Homo sapiens: one gene and its partner. The protein of the gene in region 2 purifies or fractionates together with the protein of the main gene of each other region. This does not show direct contact. Each region holds a gene or a part of one and is shown on either strand. Other genes may lie near its edges.

Region 1 (9,444 bases), about 19 Mb from region 2:
CTATCTGGATTCTAACTTTGTATGTGGAATTAGAGAACAATCCATTTTGTTTTTTTCCTTCAAATAGTAAACAGTTTTCTATCACAGACTGAAACAATCTATCCTCTCCTCCCTTGATTTTCGGTACCATCTTTGCAATATCAATCGTTTATACAATCACAAGTCTATCTCTATTCTGCTCCACTGGTCCGCTGGTCTGTTATTTTACCAATACCACATTGTTTTTATTATTATGGTTTTGTATTCCCCCTTATCCAATAGGGGAGAAGCTCACACTTTACTATTCTTATTTAAGGTTGTGAATCTTGGTGAAATCAAATGAATTTTAGATTGGCGTTACATTGAATTTACAGATTAAAGAGAAATTGCGTCTTTTTTTTTTTTTTTTGAGATGGAGTCTCACTCTGTCACCCAGGCTAGAGTGCAGTGGCGTGATTTCGGCTCACTGCAACCTCCGCCTCCCAGGTTCAAGCAGTTCTCCTGCCTCAGCCTCTCAAGTAGCTGGCATTACAGGGGTGCGCCACCATGCCCAGCTAATTTTTTGTATTTTTAGTAGTGACAGGGTTTCACCATGCTGGCCAGGCTGGTCTTGAACTCCTGACCTCGTTGATCTGCCCACCTCTGCCTCCCAAAGTGCTGGGATTACAAGTGTGAGCCACCACGCCTGGCTGAGAAGTGGCGTCTTTTTAATAAGTCATTCCGTCCAAGAGCATGGACTGTTTCTATTTTCATATCATCTTCTGTTTCATTTATTAGTTTAAAAGTGGTTTTCATAGAAGAAATATATATTTCTGGTTAGTTCCTACACTCTAGTTTTTGTTGCTATTGAGAACATCTTATTTTTACTTTTATTTTCTAGTTGGTACTGCTAGTGTAGAGACATTCTCTTGATCTGTGTTTATCTTGAATCATAACACCCCAGTGAACTCTTATTATTTGTTTCTCTGTTAATTCTGTTATATTTCTAGTATATGAGCATATTATCTACAAACAATGACACTGTTATCTCTTTCTTTGCAACTTTTCTTTTTTCTCTTCTTACATCATTGGTTATGATCTCTGGTATTTGACAGAACACAGTGATGAGATTAGGCATGCTGGTCTTAATCCTAGTTTTTAAATGAAATGCATCTGAAATTTCTCCAGTAAGTAAAGTGGTTTCCCTAGGTCTTAGTATATTACTTTTAACACATTAAGGAAGTTCCGTTCTATTCCTTGTTTGCTAAGATGTTTCTAAAAATTGTAATAAACTTCAAATATTTTTCCACATTAACTGAGATATCCTTTTTCCATTGTATTATTACATTAGTGAATTACAATAGATTTTCTGTGTCTAATATGGACATTCCTGAGATAAACTTGCTTATGATGTATCATTTTATTTTCTTTAATATCCTACTAGACCTCATACACTAATATTTAATATTTTATTAAGTATCTACATTCATACCTACATTCATCAACAATATTAGCCTATAGTTTTCCTTTCTTGTATTGTCTTTATCTGGTTTTGCAGTTCTTCCTGTTTCTTGCTTCTCTTATTGGGCAGATAAGAGAATATTTTTATTCTATAAATAGTAAGTAGTAATACATGTTAGAATGTTAGCTATCTCCTAATATTAACCTTTTTTGGAATAAATTAGGAGATGACTTTGTAACATGTAATAAAAAGAACAAAACCAGACAAAGAACTCTGAGTACTAACTAGCATTGCATACTATCTGAGAAGTCTTTTCATTCTGGCATTTAATTTGCCTAAATTTAATTACACCATCTTTCCTTGAAGAATCCAAGATACAGGCACAAGAATGTAACTCACCTGTTTAAGGCCAATAGCTAATTATTGGAGGAACTAGAAGCCAATCCTTCTGAAACCTAGCCCTAGCATTCCTACAAAAATGTATGCTAACAAATCCTAAATCTACTACCTCTAATTTGGTTGGTGATGGGTATATTCCATTTCAAGATAAAAGTAAATCAAATGTTTCTTTCTCACATACAATATACCCAAAAACCATGCTAAGTACTATAATGAATAGAAAATTTCAATTAAAAATATTTAATAAATATTTATTTTGCTAGGCAAGAATCTGTAATATCCAAGGCTCTATCTGTCCTTGAAACACCCCAGTGTAACCCACAGATCTATCTTCCATGGAATTTAACAACTCACCTTTCCCACAAGCTGTACAATTTCTGCCAGGTCTTCTTCTTCCTGCAGAATTTCCTTAGCTTTCGTCCTCAGAGGAACGAACTCTGTGAAGTGTTTGTCATAGTATTCATCCAAGGCACGCATATACTTGCTGTAGCTGATGAGCCAATTGACAGAGGGGAAATGCTTACGTTGAGCTAGTTTCTTATCTAAGCCCCAGAACACCTGATTAAAAAAAACACACACACAAAAACAGTAATTTTTCTCAAAAAACAAAGTTAAAAAATACCGAAGCATGTTTGTCCCAACTATGCAATTCTTTTTTTTTTGTTTTTGAGACAGAGGCTTGCTCTGTCACCCAGGCTGGAGTGCAGTGGCATGATCTCGGCTCACTACAACCTCCACCTCATGGGTTCAAACAATTCTCCTGACTCAGCCTCACCAGTAGCTGGGATTACAAGCATGCGCCATCAGGCCCGGCTAATTTTTGTACTTTTAGTAGAGATGGGGTTTCACCATGTTGGCTAGGCTTGTCTCGAACTCCTGACCTCATGTGATCCCTGGCCTCCCAAAGTGCTGGAATTACAGGCATGAGCCACCATGCCTGACCCCTAAATATGCAATTCTACAATTCACTGGTCAAATTATACATCGTTTTAGTATATACTAAGTAAAATTAAAACAGAATAAAACTTGCAGAAAATGACAATAATCTATTTCCTTTCATTTTCCAAGTGCATAATACCTACAAATCGAATTTAAAATTTACCTCTATTTTCTTAATACTGTGCCAAATCCAAAAGCAAAAAGAAAAATTAATTTACTCTTTTGAAAATTATTATGGTACAATAGAACCAGAAAAGGTTTATGTAGATCGAATACACACTTTACTTTGATTAAAAACCTCTAACTGGCCAGGCATGGTGGCTCACGCCTGTAATCCTAGCACTCTGGGAGGCTGAGGCAGGTGGATCACCTGAGGTCAGGAGTTCGAGACCAGCCTGGCCAACATGGCAAAACCCTGTCTGTACTAAAATACAAAAATTATCCGGGCGTGGTGGTGGCGCATGCCTGTAATGCCAGCTTACTTGGGAGGCTGAGGAGGAAGAATTGCTTGAACCCGGAAGATGAAGGTTGCAGTGAGCTGAGATCACGCCACTGCACTCCAGCCTGCATGATGGGGGTGAGATTCCATCTCAAAAAAAAAAAAATTTTTTTTTTAACTGTTCTGGGCCAGGCATGGTGGCTCACGCTTGTAATCCCTGCACTTTGGGAGGCTGAGGCGGGTGGATCACCTGAGGTCAGGAGTTCAAGACCAGCCTGGCCAACATAGTGAAATATTGTCTCTATTAAAAACACAAAAAATTAGCCAGGTGTGGTGGCGGGTGCCTATAATCCCACCTACTTGGGAGGCTGAGGCAGGAGAATCACTTGAACCCGGGAGGTGGAGGTTGCAGTGAGCTAAGTTTGTGCCATTGCACTCCAGCCTGGGCAACAAGAGTGAAACTCCGTATCAAAACAAACAAAACAAAAACATCTAAGTGTTTTGATTAAATTTAGTTGCCTATCATTCACAGGGCCAATCCAACAACAACTGACAGTGATTTTTGTAAGGGCAAACATTCACAGATATTCCATGCATTTCTAACTCTGTTCCCTCTTTCCCCATAATTTAAAACTCAAAATTTTAGCAAACGTTAAAAAGCTTGAGAGTTGTACATTTAGCCTCTGACATTTCCTTTTCTCTGATACTGTCAGAAACACAAGTAAATATTCTGTTTTTCCCACATGAATAATATACACATATCACTTTTTTTTTTTAACTATAGCTCTGATTTGTACACATCTTTTATTTGGGCTTCTTTTAATAGCCAAGCTGGCTACCTATCCACTAAAATTCATGTCTTGTCACTGGAAAGCAAATGCTTAGGCAGAAACTGCATTTTCCAGCCTTGCTTTCACCTGGATGTGGCTAATAGAATGAGTGGAGTGACTGTGTCACTTTTGAATCCAAGGTTCAAAAAAGGTGGGTATGCCTTCTCCACAAGGCCCAGCTCCCTTGTGTCAGCTAGATGCAGATGATCACCAGGCTAGGTGACAGTGGAGTCACAAGATGGAAAGAATCCTGGACTCAGAATTATCACTAAACAGAAGAGAGCCTTGGATCATACTGTGAAGTGAAATAACTTCTGGGTATTACACATTTTTGGGCCTCTTTGTTTCTATAACTAGGGTTACTATGACTTAAAGGATAATACTACTCTAATACTAATAAAATTTTTGCTACCTATATTTTCCACTTATATATTATTAAGTTTATTATAAATCCTATGTAAACAGCTAAGAAAAAAACAGACAGTATTAAAGGCTCTGTGTTAAGAGTGTTTCTAAACCAGACTTTACCATTGCCTATCCTTTAGAGACTAAATTAAATACTTCACAACGATTACATTAGATCGCATTAGAACAGCAGGGGCTGCAGAGAGGAGGAAAGGCTCAGAAGTTGACTATACTAGGGAAAGACATACCTGAACGATACCAAGAGTGGCAGATGTAACTGGATCAGAAAAATCACCACCAGGTGGAGAAACTCTAAATTTAAAAAAAATATGGTCATTACAAAAAAAATGGTCATTAGAAATGCTTATGAAAAATAACATATATATAAATGTTAACTTTTTTTAAAGTCGATTTTAATGTAAATAACTTTTTAATGTAAATAACTTTAGAAATGACCTTTGGAAAGAAAATCTTACCTAAAAATCTTAAACAAAAGCCAGTATTTAAGTTGTAAACAACAATAGAAACTACAGAACACCTTCTATTATGAGACATGAGATAGATATTTTATTATAATCAATTTTATTATTCTAATCAAATAGATGAAGCAAGGAGGAAACGCTCTAAGAAAAAAGTATGGCTTTATGTAGTGATCACGAATCTTCACTTTCTTTTTACCGTGATGCAATCTCACCTTATTATGTCTATAATTTTCTAAATTATAAAAATTAAATAAATATCTAAATTAAACATATAAATATATAAATTAAAGTCAAACCTATGGAACCAGGACATGTAGAAATTGCCTAAACATGTGCATCTTCAAAGAGCTCCTTAGGTGACTCTGGAGTGCAACCCTCCTTAAGAACCGCTGCTCCCAGCGGGAGCTAAATATTCTCTCTTTAAAATAAGTGACTTTTTTTCTCTCTTTAATACATCTGTGACTTTTTTCCTTTTGCAAAGTAAATAGTGTGGGTGCTTACGCTCCTACAATGCTGACACTCCCTTCTCTTTCAGGATTTCCAAGACATTTCACCCTGCCTGCTCGTTCATAAAACGAGGCCAGACGGGCACCAAGATAGGCTGGATATCCACTATCTGAAAAATGAAAAGAAATTTTAAAACAGAGTTTCTAAGCCAGCCCCGAAAATCCCATCAGTCTTGTTTACATGATAAGCAATACACAGACTTACCTGCAGGCATTTCAGCTAAACGACCAGAGATTTCTCTAAGGGCCTCAGCCCATCTAGAGGTAGAGTCAGCCATCATACTGACATGATAGCCCATGTCACGGAAGTACTCTGACAGTGTGATTCCTAAATTGGGAAGAATATTATTATAAGTTACAATGCTAGCATATAAAAATCCTGTTTTTTTCCACCCTTAAGAAAACCTTAAAGCAATAAGTACACAACGTAGACTGCTAGTGGCTCCCTCAAAGCTGCTCTTCCTCTTTTTCTGGGCACACACTGAATTGTTTCCTAGCATCCTGTGCACTTAGATATGGCCATGTAACTGATCTCTGGCTAACAAAACTCAAGTCAAAATAATGTGTTCTACGGTCAGGCAAGTCACACGCTCTTCCATACTCTTTCTTCCTTCTGGCCTACTGAAATGGAAAGAACTCCCAGTAGTCTTGGAAGCCATGTGTTGAAAATGGTAGAGCTCATTTCAGGCTGGATCATGGCTCAGAATGACAGAGTAAAGAGTGCCCTGAACACTTGAAATAAACATCTATTATATTGAGCAAATATATATTTGGAATTATTTGATGCCATAGCCTAGCTGGCCCTAATATAATGCACATTTTAGAAAGCAGGAAATGACTTTCTCTATTCTTTGTTGAAATAATTAAGTCTGAAATTAATTTTCAAATGTAGCTTCTCTCTATATATCACATACACACACACAAACATGTATGCATGCAAAAGTAACCCTTAACCAATCAGCTTGGGTGGTTACTTTTCAAAAGTAGCAAATGTTATTAAAATGAGTAATATCTTAATTGTCCAGATTATTCTGCTATGCAGATCAGGTCCTATCCTGTAAATTTAGACAGTAAACCACTTATAAGCAGCTAATATACAGAAACGAGTGTTGGGTTCTAGTTCCTATTCTGTCATTAACCTTAGCAAAATAACTTGATTTCCCAGTGTGGCTTCCTAACCTATTAAAAATGGAATAACGCCTGCCCTATATACTTGTATATATGGCAGATGAAGTGAATTAAATAAATGTCATCTAAAAAGTACAAAGCGCTATGAAACACTAAGATATTAGGAAAAATATATAGTTATATTATAAAAGTTCCAAAAGATTTTGGAACTTTTATAATGCCTTGGTTTTTTTATTTTACTGGTAAAGAAACAGAGGTTTATATAAGTAAAATTAACATAATTAGTGGAAAATTCAGTACTTTCCTATTTATCATATTGCATCTTTCAGAATAAAAAATACTGACTGTTCAGGCATCCATAAAATGGTCTCATGAAGAAAGTCTTTAGGAAACATTACTTATCAATATTAAGGCTTCAACAACACAATAATTACCACATATTCCAATCTAATAAGAACAGATTCTTTCTTATACAAGCATGCTGTGTTTTAAATCTGTGATGAAATGTCACAGATACTTGTGATATTAGAAAGAAATGGCAGAAAAGACAGATACATATGAGTAAGTGAGAATTCTCTGACAGACCTACAGGTATCAGTGCCTACAAGAAAAATATGCCTCAGACAAAATCAAGAGATAAACAAGCTGGGACATATTTGCAACTCATGACAGATAAAGGACGAATTTATTCATTAATCAAAGAGTTTCTGGCCAGGCGCGGTGGCTCAAGCCTGTAATCCCAGCACTTTGGGAGGCCAAGGTGGGCAGATCCCCCGAGGTCAGGAGTTCGAGACCAGCCTGGCCAACATGGTGAAACCCCATCTCTACTAAAAATACAAAAATTAGCCAGGTGTGGTGGTGGTGCATGCCTGTAATCCCAGCTACTCGGGAGGCTGAGGTTGTAGAACTGCTTGAATCCAGGAGGCAGAGGCTGCAGTGAGCCAAGATCGCACCACTGCATTCCAGCCTGGGTGACTGAGTGAGACTTTGTCTCAAAACCAACAAACAAACAAAAAAAAACAACAAAAAACCAAAAAGAGTTTCTAGAAATCAGTATGAAAAACAACTATCATCCAAAAGGAAAATGAACACAAGGCAGTTTTTAAATGGTTCATACACACAAGAAAGATGCTAGTTCATTGTTAAATACAGATTGAACAGGTATCTAATAAAGCAAGAATAGTTAAAATTTCAATTGTCAAATCTAAGTGCTGGGTACATGGTATTCACTGTAACATTCTTTCAACTTTTCCGTATCTTTGATAATTATCATAAGAACGTGTTGAAAAAACTAGCATTGGTGAAGATGTTGAGAAGCAGAAACTCTTGTCCACAGTTAGCCCTTTTGAAGGGCTATCAGAATGTAAAATAATAATTAGCAGCTGTATTGGCAGGAATTTTGCTTCTAAGAAATTACCCTAAGAAATGTACAAAGAGGCCAAGCATGGTGGTTCATGCCTATAATCCCAGGACTTTGGGAGGCCAAGGCAGGAGGATCTCTTGAGGCTAGAAGTTGCCCATCCTGGGCAACATAGTGAGACCCCCATCTCTACAGAAAATAAAAAAATTAGCCAGGCATGGTGGCTCATGTCTGTAGCCTCAGCTACTTGGGAGGCTGAGATGAGAGGATCCCTTGAGACCAGGAGGTCAAAGCTGCAGTGAGCCATGAACATGCCACTGCACTTCAGCCTGGGTGATAGAGCAAGACCCTGTCTCTAAGGAAAAAAAAAACATGCAAAGAAACATGCATGCAAAACATACAAAGAATAGTGTAAAAATATATGTTTAAGGATGTTTTAGTGCTGCCTATCGTAAACGACGATAAAGAATCCAATAGTCCACCAAAAAGATGCCAGTTAAATTGATTATGATATATCCATACAAAGGGATACTGTGCAGCCATTTAAAAGAATAAGGTAGCTTTCTTAAAATGGTAGATGAATATGTCACTGTCTCTTCCTCATAAAACTTACCTCCAAACAAGGAGAACAAGAAATACAGAAATACAAATTTAGTCATTAAAAACTAGGAGACATAGTCCCACAACAATATAATTTAAAAAGTCACCTAAATAAGGTGAAAACCAAATAAGGGTATGGAAAAATGCCAAGAATTCATCTGAGGCCATGCATCTCAGATAAAGCTTCTGCAAACTTGAAGGCACATCTTCAAGTGCCTTGTTTGTTTCCAAACAAAGCAAGAGTGCTTTGTTTGGAACACTGCAAAAAGCTACATGGCCAGTCGCAGGAAGGAGTTCCTTGTACTCAGTTTGGCATCAAAGAGAAGCAGGAAGATAGGGATGAATAAAACACAAGTAGGTACTCCCTATTTTCACTAAATGAAAAGTGGGTGAGACAGAGGAGAATTCACTGTGAATGGTCTTACAGCTGCTGATTTCTGGTATCAGGCAAGAAGAGTAAAATAGCTTTTTTACACAGCTGCATGCCATAATAAACTTCACAAGTTACCATGAAGAATTCCTGCTACCCTGGTACACAGTCACAGCCAGCCCTCTCATCTCCTACAAAGATGAGTAATAGTAATAATAAATATCAGTACAGGATATCTAAACAAAAATAAAATAAGGAAAAAGACAGAAGAGAAGAATACAATGATGGTCAAATAACTTGTCAAAGAATAAATGAAAACTGTGACCACAGTTAAAAAAAAAAAAAAACCCTAATAATGCAGCCTACTACAAAATAAAATCTCAAGGCATATGGAGTAAGATAAGAAGAGATACTTGATGAGCTGAAAGAACAAAAAGAAATAGAAGTGAAGGTTTCATTAGAAGCAACACAAAGAATAAATACCATTTATCCTGTGAACAGACACAAGGCTAAATAAAAAGGAGTAGAGAGGAAATGATGCACATGGAAAATAGATAACAAAAACC
Region 2 (10,317 bases):
CTATTTACATATTGAAATGCATATAGTCAATTCTGCTATAATGCTTTCTTGATCATGTGAATTTTAACAGGATTGGTGTATTACTGAACAATTTGAGCATAATGAAAATGTCACATTTGCTTATAGTGATTCTGTCCCAACACTAAGTGAACGCAGAAAATTGTACCCAACTGAGTCATGCAGGAATTCACAAAATACACACACACACTTCAGGTGGTCAATGAACCACATACATTCACATATATGTTACTAATTTTCCACTCCATCTTATAACTTTTTTTCCTTCTACTACTTCACAGTAATTCAGAAACTATAACTCCATCCAATGCTCACTGCATTGTTTGCTCAAACTTTTTCAAGGCAAAATGTCATTATTATAGTATTTAACATGTACAAAACAGTTCTTTTTAAGCTCCTATCTTTTTAAAAAATGTATAATGATGACTGCTCTTTCTCTTGGGAGTTTTTTTCATGGGCCTCATAATTTTTGGTTAAAAGCTGGACATGTTGTGTAGGAGTAGAGATTGAGGTAATTTTTATGACTGGAAATGAGCACGCCTGTTCTTTGTGAGGCCTTTGGTGAAGGGTTTGTGTTAATCTGGTTAGGAGTTGGACTTAGTTTATGATTTGTTTTTGCCATAGTTATCCTCAGTGTATTACAGCCTTCATGAATCTGCAGAACAGTTTGTCTCTCTGGTGGGCGATGGTTTACTAGAGCAATGCCTGTTTGATTCTTTGTGTTGTGCCTCTTTGCATAATCTTGTTCCTTTCCTAGTAGTATTTTGTGGGTTACTTGTTACTGAAAGCTTCTTAGCTTGGTGGCAGGGGGTTGGGGGTGGGGGATACAGTCTGATGTTCTGATTAAGTCTAAGTCAAACACTGTGTTCCTGAATCTCAGGAGGGCAGCACTCTCGGTTCTGTTGACCACTCCCGACTGCAGTTTTGGGCTCAGGGCCCCTCCTCCAGGCATAAGATTCTCTCCCACTTCTCATCTACCCCCTGAATGTTCACCAATGGGGCCAACAGAGATACCCTTCTCCCCAGAGATTAAAGCTTTTTTCCATAGAAGAGGCAGAGGGGAAGAATCACAGCAGTTTCTTGACCCTCTTAAAAGTTCTGTTGCTGTTCCTCTCCCTCTCAATCTGCACAGCAGACTCACCCAGGGTTCTTTCCAGTCTTTTCTAGTAGACCCAGGGAGGTTTGTGGATAAGAGTTTGCAAGATTGTGCATTCAGCTTTCATCATGCTTTTTGTCCAGTTGTGTCTGAAGACGGTAAACAGAAATTGACATCTACTCTCTGTAAGCACTGTCTCTCAAATTTTCAGCCAGTGGTTTTGCTCTGTGGACTCAGCTCTTTAATAGATTTCAAAAAAGTCATGAATTTGTAGTGTAGGTCTTTTTTTGTTGCAGAAGTGAGAGCAAAGCTTCTTTTTTTGTCTCAGGGCCAAAGCCAGAGGTAGTTACATTATTTATAAACTAAAGATAGCAAAGAAGGTGTTACTAATTATTTTTTATAAAAAGGGAGCCTTTATTGGGTCTAATAAAGTTGAGAAACACTGACTCAAGGAACTCTTTCAAAATATTAATAACTCCCCTTTAACTACTGCCATGTTTTACAGTGAACATTTAGGCCAAAACCTATTTGTAGCAACCAAATTTGTGCTGCAGTTTATCTGCACAGCCTTGTTTCAATTACTAATTTAAAGTACCTCAATCAGAAGCAGGGGAAAGGTATGTGTAGCAGAAACCTCATATTCACCTGTGTAAACAGAACTGGTTGAGGAATGAAGCCAAATTAGTTAAAACACATCTTTTCAATTTCAACCCTAATTTGGGACCTATTGAGAACCGGACTCCACTATCAACCTTTTAACAAATTTAATAAAGCCAGTATTGTTACAGTCCACCTGGGCAAGGCAACCATCTTCTATTTATTTGTGGATAAAGTTAAATTATTCCAAACAATTCATTCACTTATTAATATTTTATTTTTTAGCTTAAGTATTTTGTTTACAACTAAGCTTGTTAACAATATATAACATTAATATATTTTAGACTATTTATTACTACCACTTTAGAAAAAGAGGAATATTCATTGCCTCTCAGTGGAATACAAATGCTGATATTTTCCATGAACTGAACTCTAGCCTTAAGGTTCTTTACATTCTTATTTCTTAATAATCCTCTGACTCCTCTTTTCCTCCCTTAATATGTTCTACTTCCTGTTTTCAAACAAGGAGTATAATGTAATAATTTCTACACAAGGACGTGTGTTGCCTGAATGCATTGTGATACTAACAGCACAAGCCAAGTCTGAGATATAGTAGCTTAAAAAGCGTTTCACATTACACAAAATGTGAACAAGGTTTTACGTTATATGATAGATAAGCCAATAAAGTACTTTCCAAAAATCAAAGAACTGTGTTCTGGATACCGAATTTCTGACAAGTGGTTTCTATAAATTTATTTTTTTAAGGCAAATTCTGTTTCATACTCCCATAAACTCAAAGTACTGGTAATATATTATAAAACCTTATCACTGTAATTTTCCCTGCAGGCAGTAGTTTCAAACCTAGAAACCTATCAAGTCCATAAACTGAGAAAGAAAATATAGTAAGAAAGAATTACTGGGGGCAGGTTCTGAACTTCTACTTTTTTCCCCAAGACACTGTATTACAAAAGGCTCAACATAACTGTACACTATAAAGCCCTTCATAGAGGACGCAACAGCATCAGGTACAGAACCTCCTTTTTGAGGGAAATCAGAATAACGTAAAAGGGAAAAGCAGAGGGAAAATGAGAAATAATTACTTTGGGAGACCACCGCCACATTAGGGTGAAATCTTTACTTTTTTCCCCCCTCTAAGCAACGGACACAGGAAACAATCTTAAGACAAACGTGGTTAACGGAACACGCTACAAAAGGAGAAAATTTAAGGGAAGGCACTCTTAAACATAGTTAAGTATCAAGTGATTAACAGCCACTTCACTGAGCGTCTAAGTCCTACTTTACCCACTCCAAAGGCCACATTCAAAGATAAAATCACAGCAGCGGAGGAAAGGCCACGTGAATAAGCTGCCTTGCAGGAAGGAAAAGCCTTAGGGGAGAAAATGATTTTAGAAAAAGTACTGGAGAACAGACGACGCGGATGCTCATTTCCTAACAAAACGAAACAAAGCAAAGAAAGTCAGTCTGCAGGACTTGTTCGGAAGGAGGGTCGCTGACCCAAGGAAACAAGAGTTGCCGGCATCCAGCAGGAAGGGTGCTCAGACTAGGAGACTGGAAGGGAATCCCGAGGGCGGAACCCACAAGGGAATGAAGAGCCTGTGGGGTAAGGATATGTTAAGGCGAGTGGAGGAGCGTACTAGGTATAAAACAAGCAAAAAAAAGGGGTGGGGCTGGACAGGGCAGCGCCCTGAGCTAATGTCACTCAAAGCCGGGGGGGCGTCCAACGAAAGGAACCAGACCAGCAGCCTGGGGGAAGGGTAATCTGCTTCCTTAGCAGCTGCAGGCTGCAGCAGCCAAGACCACCCCGTTTTCCCTGCCCTGAGCCCCACAAAGTCCCCACGGCGTGGGAAGGGAGTAAGGCAGAGCCCCAGAGCCCAGTGCCCGGAGTCGGCTTTACCTTCGCGGGAGGCTGGAGAGGCTCCAGCCCTAGCTCCTCCCGCCGCCGGCTCAGCTTCCAGAGTGGGATGAGGCGCCCTCCGGCCTCCTCACCCTCACCACTTCCCCTTTCCCCCGCCGGGGCCCTGCAGCTCCGCTGCCGCGGGTTCCTGGTGCCGCCGCGGCGCTGCCTCCCCGCCCCCTCCGCCTCCTCCCTCTGCCTCTCAGAGTTTCACTCTGGAGGCCGCCATCTTCGCTCAGGCTTTGAGCGAGCGCGCTCTAATACGCCTGCGTCGCCACCGCCCAGGCTGTCACGAGACCCAGTCAGCTGATTTCAACTCTTCCGTCTTCTGCCCCGCCCTCCCCGTCCTCCCCGTCCCGATCGTTCTTTCCCTGAAATTCTGCTTTCCTCCGGCCAGCCCCCAGCAGCTACACATGCGCAGAGTAACGACACCGGCCGTGGGATTTGGATTCCACGCAGCGCGTCAGGGGGCTGGCGCCTCGGTGGGTGCTGAAAAGGACACGCCCCTGGGCGCGCGCGGGTGCCCATGACCACGCCCCTCCGGCGGGTGCCCATGACCACGCCCCTCCGGCGTGTGCCTTAGGGCCGCGCCCCTCCGCTTATGTCCTGCGGAGAGTAGGGTCGCAACCCGGTACTTAAGCTTTAAGTCCGAGGAAATCTTGTTTTAAATCACCTCTTTTTAGCTCTTGCCGTCAAGTGCCATGGAGCATCTGCGAGGCAGTCTGAAGCCTCAGCCTATCTCCTGGTTTGGCTGGATTGGGAGCCAGCAGGTTCATTTACTATTGAGACGTCCTGAACGACAGCAGAGCAGGGTTTAAGTTATGGATGCTCTGGAAGGTCTCAGAGACCAAATTCTCAGAGACGCCTAAGGCATTTGCAGGTGGGAATGCTGGAAAGATAGTTCTGGTAGCCCCATTTATTGTGTCCGGATCAAGTGTTTAGAAGTTTACTTAAAGCTGCTTAATCTTCAACTCTCTGAGATACGAATCATCCTCGTTTTGCAGATAAGTTGAGGCCCAGCCTCAGAGTAGTGGATTTCATGTTTGCACCCAAGTAATTTGAACCCAGAACCTGTGCCCTCTAGATAACCATCTTCCTGAACCTCACCTGAGAGGGAAGTCAGGGCAGTGAAAAGAGGGGATATTGGGACTAAAGGATTCGGCTAGAAATTATGTGTTATCTGTGGGCAATGGTTTAAATAAGAAAGGTCAATGTCCACTCCCAGATCTGAGCCGTAAAGACCACAGTTTAAAAATTAGTGATTAAAAAAAAAATAGTGATTCTGCTGCAGACTTCAGAGTAGAGGCAGTGTAGGGTGACCTGCATGGATACATTATTGTATAAGGGTTAAAGGTCTCTGATAAGGAGTTGAATACTCATTCTTCATGGCAGTCCTGAAATTGTGATTTCTTGGCGTCCCCTTCAGCAAGTTGGCTCATTTTATAGACAGCGATTGCAGGATGAAAAAATGTGGAAAAATGGTTTTTACAGACTTTACCTCTTGATTCTATTAACCCTTTGCCCTACCTTAGGGCGGAAAAAGACTATTTGTGTTTATCCTTAGACTTTTCTGTAATGCAGCAGTAAGATAAGGTGCATGTAAGGGAAGGTACTAGGAATAGCTGGGTGTGGGAAGACAGAACCCGAAATAGAGTAGGAAGGGAGGAGGAGGAAAAAGAAACAGGAGGGCTGTGTTAAGGGGCCTTATTGGCTTATCCCATGGAAACAGAAACGTGTTTATGTGGTTACAAAGCCTTCCAGTAATCCCAAAAGTAAATGTGGGGTATATTATTTCGATTTTAGAGAAGCAGCAGACCCAGAGAGTCCAGGAGACTTGCTAAAGGTGACCTAACTCCTAAAGGTTGAGCCAAGATTAAGACACAGGGCCTGCCTGTAACATCAAGGCCAGTGAACTGTTCAACCTCCACACTGCCTCTCTGTTCAATATTTGAGACCAATAAAATCAATTCTCGTGTTGAGAGGAGCCTTAGGCATCATGAATTGTCCCCATCCTCTGTAGTGCAAAATTGCCTCACAAGACATCTTTTTCCATTGCATTTTTATAAGCCATTTTCCTTGTATTCAGCCAACTTGCACTCTCTTCTATGAGTAGTTATTTTGTCTTTGTTTCTTGCTCTTTTCTTCTTGTATGTGACATTCATTTAAGCACTTATCAGTACAGCTTATCACCCTTTCCCACTCCCTCTCCCGTGCATATCCTTCTAACTACCCCTGCTACAGATACTCATTTTAAGAAACCATATTCAAAGTACTTTCAACCATTGTTCACAAGATGTAGTTTCAAGCCTTTTCACAACCACTGGTTGCTTTTAATTGGATCCATACAATTGGATCCTTCTTAAAATGCCACAACAAAATACAAGAGTCAGGGAGAGTAGGACTTGTCTCTTCTTTCCCTATTAGGTTAAATCAGTTGGATCCTTTCCCCACCCAACTCTTTTTTAAGAGTGACAAATGCACACTTCTTTTTCTGGATTTGTCTTTTTATTCATAATTAAAGTTTGCACTAGCGTTTCTGACACTTTCATAGTGCAGATGTATCAAATTTACAATCTAAATTATGTGATGTACACTTAAAATATTTCACAGCTTTTTAAAAAATACATTTCACAGCCTTTTAGGCACCAATAGCCTTTATCAGTCTCCAAAGTTAGCATACAAGGCTGGAGTGATCTAAGACTTTAGAGAGCCCACAAGAATGTCAAACACTTGCTTATCTAATTCCCATTGCTGCTAAATTGACCTTCCTAATTATATCAATGCCCAGATCCAAAGTAAATCCTTAAGAACTCATACCACTCAACAATGCTTGAACTATGTTTTCAGTACAGTAGCCACTAGCCCTATGTGGCTACTGAACACAGAATAAAAATTAAAATTGTTACAAAAAAATGTAAAATGTTGCATTAGCAATTTTTATATTGATTACACGTGTTAAAAGAAAAAAATATTTAGGCCGGGCACGGTGGCTCACGCCTGTAGTCCCAGCACTTTGGGAGGCTGAGGCGGGTGGATCACCTGAGGTCAGGAGTTTGAGACCAGCTTGGCCAACATGATGAAACCCCGTCTCTACTAAATATAAAAAAATTAGGCGGGCCTGGTGGTGCATACCTGTAATCCCAGCTATTCGGGATGCTGAGGCAGGAGAATCACTTGAACCTGGGAGGGGGAGGTTGCAGTGAGCCGAGATGGTGCCACTGCACTCCAGCCTGGGCAACAAGAGTGAAACTCTCAAAAAAAAAAAAAGTATTATTTAATGATACTTGTTAAAGCTTGGTAATAGGCTGAGCATGATGGCTGACACCTGTAATCCCAAGGCTTTGGGAGGCCAAGTCAGGAGGATCACTTGAGGCCAGGAGTTTGAGACCAGCCTATGCAATGTAGTGGGACCCCATTGCTACAAAATAATAAAAATAAAAGCATTATCTGGGCATGGGGGCATGCCCCTGTAGTGCTAGTTACTCAGGAGGCTGAGGTGAGAGGATCTCTTGAGCCCAGGAGTTCGAGGTTACAGTGAGCTATAATTGTGCCACTGCACTCCTGCCTGGGCAGCAGAGAAAGACCCTGTACCCCCTGCTCCCCACAAAAAAGATTTTATTCAGTTTATTTACGATCATTACAATAGGTACAGGAGCCACTGCAACAGGGGCTTGCAGTAAGGGAGAGAGACGGGGCTCAGGTCGGAAAACGACACGGGCAAGTATGCATTTATCTCCAAGGAACAGTGTGTGGGGGTCAGTGGATGGAAAATTACTAAGAGAAAACATCAGGGGTGAGCGGGGATCCTGGCTAAACCTACGTAACAGGATTCTTGCTAAAGACAGGCCAGAGTGATTAGACATCTTCTGGGGGAAGGTGAAAGATGAGGAATCTGATCACATATCGAGGGAATTTTGGCTAAACTGACTTAGCCAGGTTCTTTTGCAGACTAGACTTTTCAAGGAAGCACACAGAGGGGCCTAAGGAAAGGTTCAGAAGCCTGATTAAAATTTGGCTGAGCAAAGACTCTTTGTCACATGTGGAAATGATAATATTATGGCTGTATATTTGGTTAAATAAAATGTTATTAAAATTAATTTCACTTGTTTCTTTTAAGGAATGTAGCTACTAGTAAATGTAAAATTAAATATATGGCTCCCATTGTATTTCTCTTGGACAATACTGCTATTAGAAAATCTTGTGCAAGCAAACAGTAAGTGTCAGAAAACAACTACGTCGAGTTGGTGAGCTTGAAGCTTCCACAGAATCTTCTACTGGACTTCATTTTAATTTGTTATGTGATTGGTTGGTTGTTTGTCTTTAGTGGTTTTTCTCAAGATTTATCTGGCCACACGTATTTAGTTTTCTGTGTTTCTCTATACTGTAATTCAAATAATTGAAATTATTTACAACATATGACAAATTATGACATGAGAATTTCTTGACATATATACATATGTATCTGTATATATATATAGGATCCACAATTTTTTTTTTTTGTAACTGATAGCCTGGCTTCCCCAGCTCACTTAATCCTACCCCAGGAAGTCTAGTTTTATTATTAATGTGAATTAAAATATCTTTTTAAATAGTATAATGATGTTCATATATAAAGGATTTTGAATTTATAATATTTTATTAACAAAAACATGCTTTCATTTAATTACAGGAAATTATCTAGATTTGATTATATTTTCAAAGATGGATGAGGAGGGAAAAGAAAATAACTTATTCTGTGGTCTAACAATTTTAAACTATTATTGAAATTTTAACTGGTTAAGAAAAAGGCCTGTGTTCTTTTTCCTTATTAAATTTTACCACAACTGCTCTTTTACAATATATACACTGCTGAGGGTTTTCTAATTCAGGTGTTCTTACTAATTAATTCAAATACTTCTTGTATTATCAGATTTGAGAAAACTCAAGAACCTTATGTGGTTTTTTCCATAAAGGGTTTTGAAGTGAACAAGATTTCCAATCTGCTATGAAATTATTATATTCAGACATTTTTAGTCATCAGCACTTGAAGGAAATATAATGTAGTTTAAAAAACTCACAGGCAAGTTCGTTATCCTCTTTGAGTCTTAGTTCCCTCTTCTGTAAACTTCAGATATTGATACCTACCTTGAGAGACATTTGCAGGAGTTACATAACTTATGTAGAGCACTTCATTACTGAGCACACACTATAGTTAATATCAGGGTCTCCAGCTTGTTTATGTAATCCTTGTCTTTGAGTTTTTAAATGAAACAGGTTTGCTGTAGTTCTTATCATCAGAGGACTAACCAGATGAAGATAATACAGATAATAACTTATATAGAGCAGTTCATTACTGAGCACACACTATAGTTAATATCAGGGTCTCCAGCTTCTTTATGTAATCCTTGTCCTTGCGTTTTTAAATGAAACAGGTTTGCTGTAGTTATCATCAGAGGACTAACCAGATGCTAATAATACAGAATGTCAGATAAGCAGATATTCTGTATTATTAGCAGAATGGGGAAAGTTCAAGTGTTCATTCTTGACAACCATATTTGAATACTCCTATCATGAGACATCATTAAATAGTTCATTTTATTTATTATGGAGAACACAGAGTTGACTTGTTCAATTCATCTGTGAATGTTAACAATGCAAAAAAGTCTTACATGCATGGAATTTCGACAGTCACAATATATTTTAAAAATGGTGATCCAAAACTTGACCATGAGGAAGTTCTTAGAATGACAATGACTCATTCACGCCTAAATCAAGGTGAGTTAATCAGGTGCAACAAAAGCTTTTTTTTCCCACTAATTTTGTTAAAGATCATTGCAACCACATAGAAGGAAAGGATATCTATTCATTAATCTTGGATAATAACTTATTCATATTATGCCTATCTGAGAACATAAAACTTCATTACCCAAATTATTGCTGGCTTTGAGCATATAAAGATGATATGACTGTTATTTCCATGTAAAACTTAATTTTGTCAATGAAAAGATGATTTTTTTTTCTTTTTGTGAGCAACAGTAAATGAGGTGGCAGCCACCTACTTAGCGTAAAGGAAAATAAAACATAAAAGAAGTAGTATTTCAAGCTCAACTAATTAGCTTGTAAAGTTATTGGTTCTCAAATCTATACAGTGAAGTCTGAGAAAAAAAAAAGTAAATCAATGTAAACCAAAATAAAAAGCACATACTAACAAAGCCAATTTGAAAAAAATCTTACTAATATAGAAGAAACTCACATATACTAGTCACTGCAAATGTTAAAGTTACTTTGGGTCTATTCCTAATCTGCCTGTCAGACAAACTTTGAGAGTTGAAGGATTATACATCATACTACTATAGAGACACATGCTCACATATGTTTATTGCAGCACTATTTACAATAGGAAAGACCTGGAACCAACCCAAATGCCCATCAATGATAGACTGGATAAAGAAAATGTGGCACATATATACCATGGAATACTATGCAGCCACAACAAAGAATGAGTTCATGTCCTTTGCAGGGACATGGATGAAGCTGGAAACCATCATCCTCAGAAAACTAACACAGGAACAGAAAACCAAACACCGCATGTTCACACTCATAAGTGTGAGTTGAAAAATGAGAACACATAGACACGGAGGGGAACATCACCCACTGGGGCCTGTTGTGGGGTCGGGGGAAAGGAGAGAGAGAGCATTAGGACAAATACCTA

What was found.
Region 1: the proteins of DNAJC13 (region 2) and ATP6V1A purify together in Homo sapiens (co-immunoprecipitation; 2 studies listed by BioGRID and IntAct, with this or other methods). This does not show direct contact.

The regions. Positions count from the first base shown.
Region 1 is NC_000003.12:113,791,176-113,800,619, reverse strand, and holds part of ATP6V1A (V-type proton ATPase catalytic subunit A), read right to left. Parts: intron 5,749-9,444; coding exon 5,626-5,748; intron 5,531-5,625; coding exon 5,416-5,530; intron 4,745-5,415; coding exon 4,681-4,744; intron 2,378-4,680; coding exon 2,174-2,377; intron 1-2,173. UniProt on the Homo sapiens protein: Catalytic subunit of the V1 complex of vacuolar(H+)-ATPase (V-ATPase), a multisubunit enzyme composed of a peripheral complex (V1) that hydrolyzes ATP and a membrane integral complex (V0) that translocates protons.
Region 2 is NC_000003.12:132,411,070-132,421,386, reverse strand, and holds the start of DNAJC13 (dnaJ homolog subfamily C member 13), read right to left. Parts: upstream 3,886-10,317; 5' UTR 3,627-3,885; exon of another isoform or gene 1-3,626.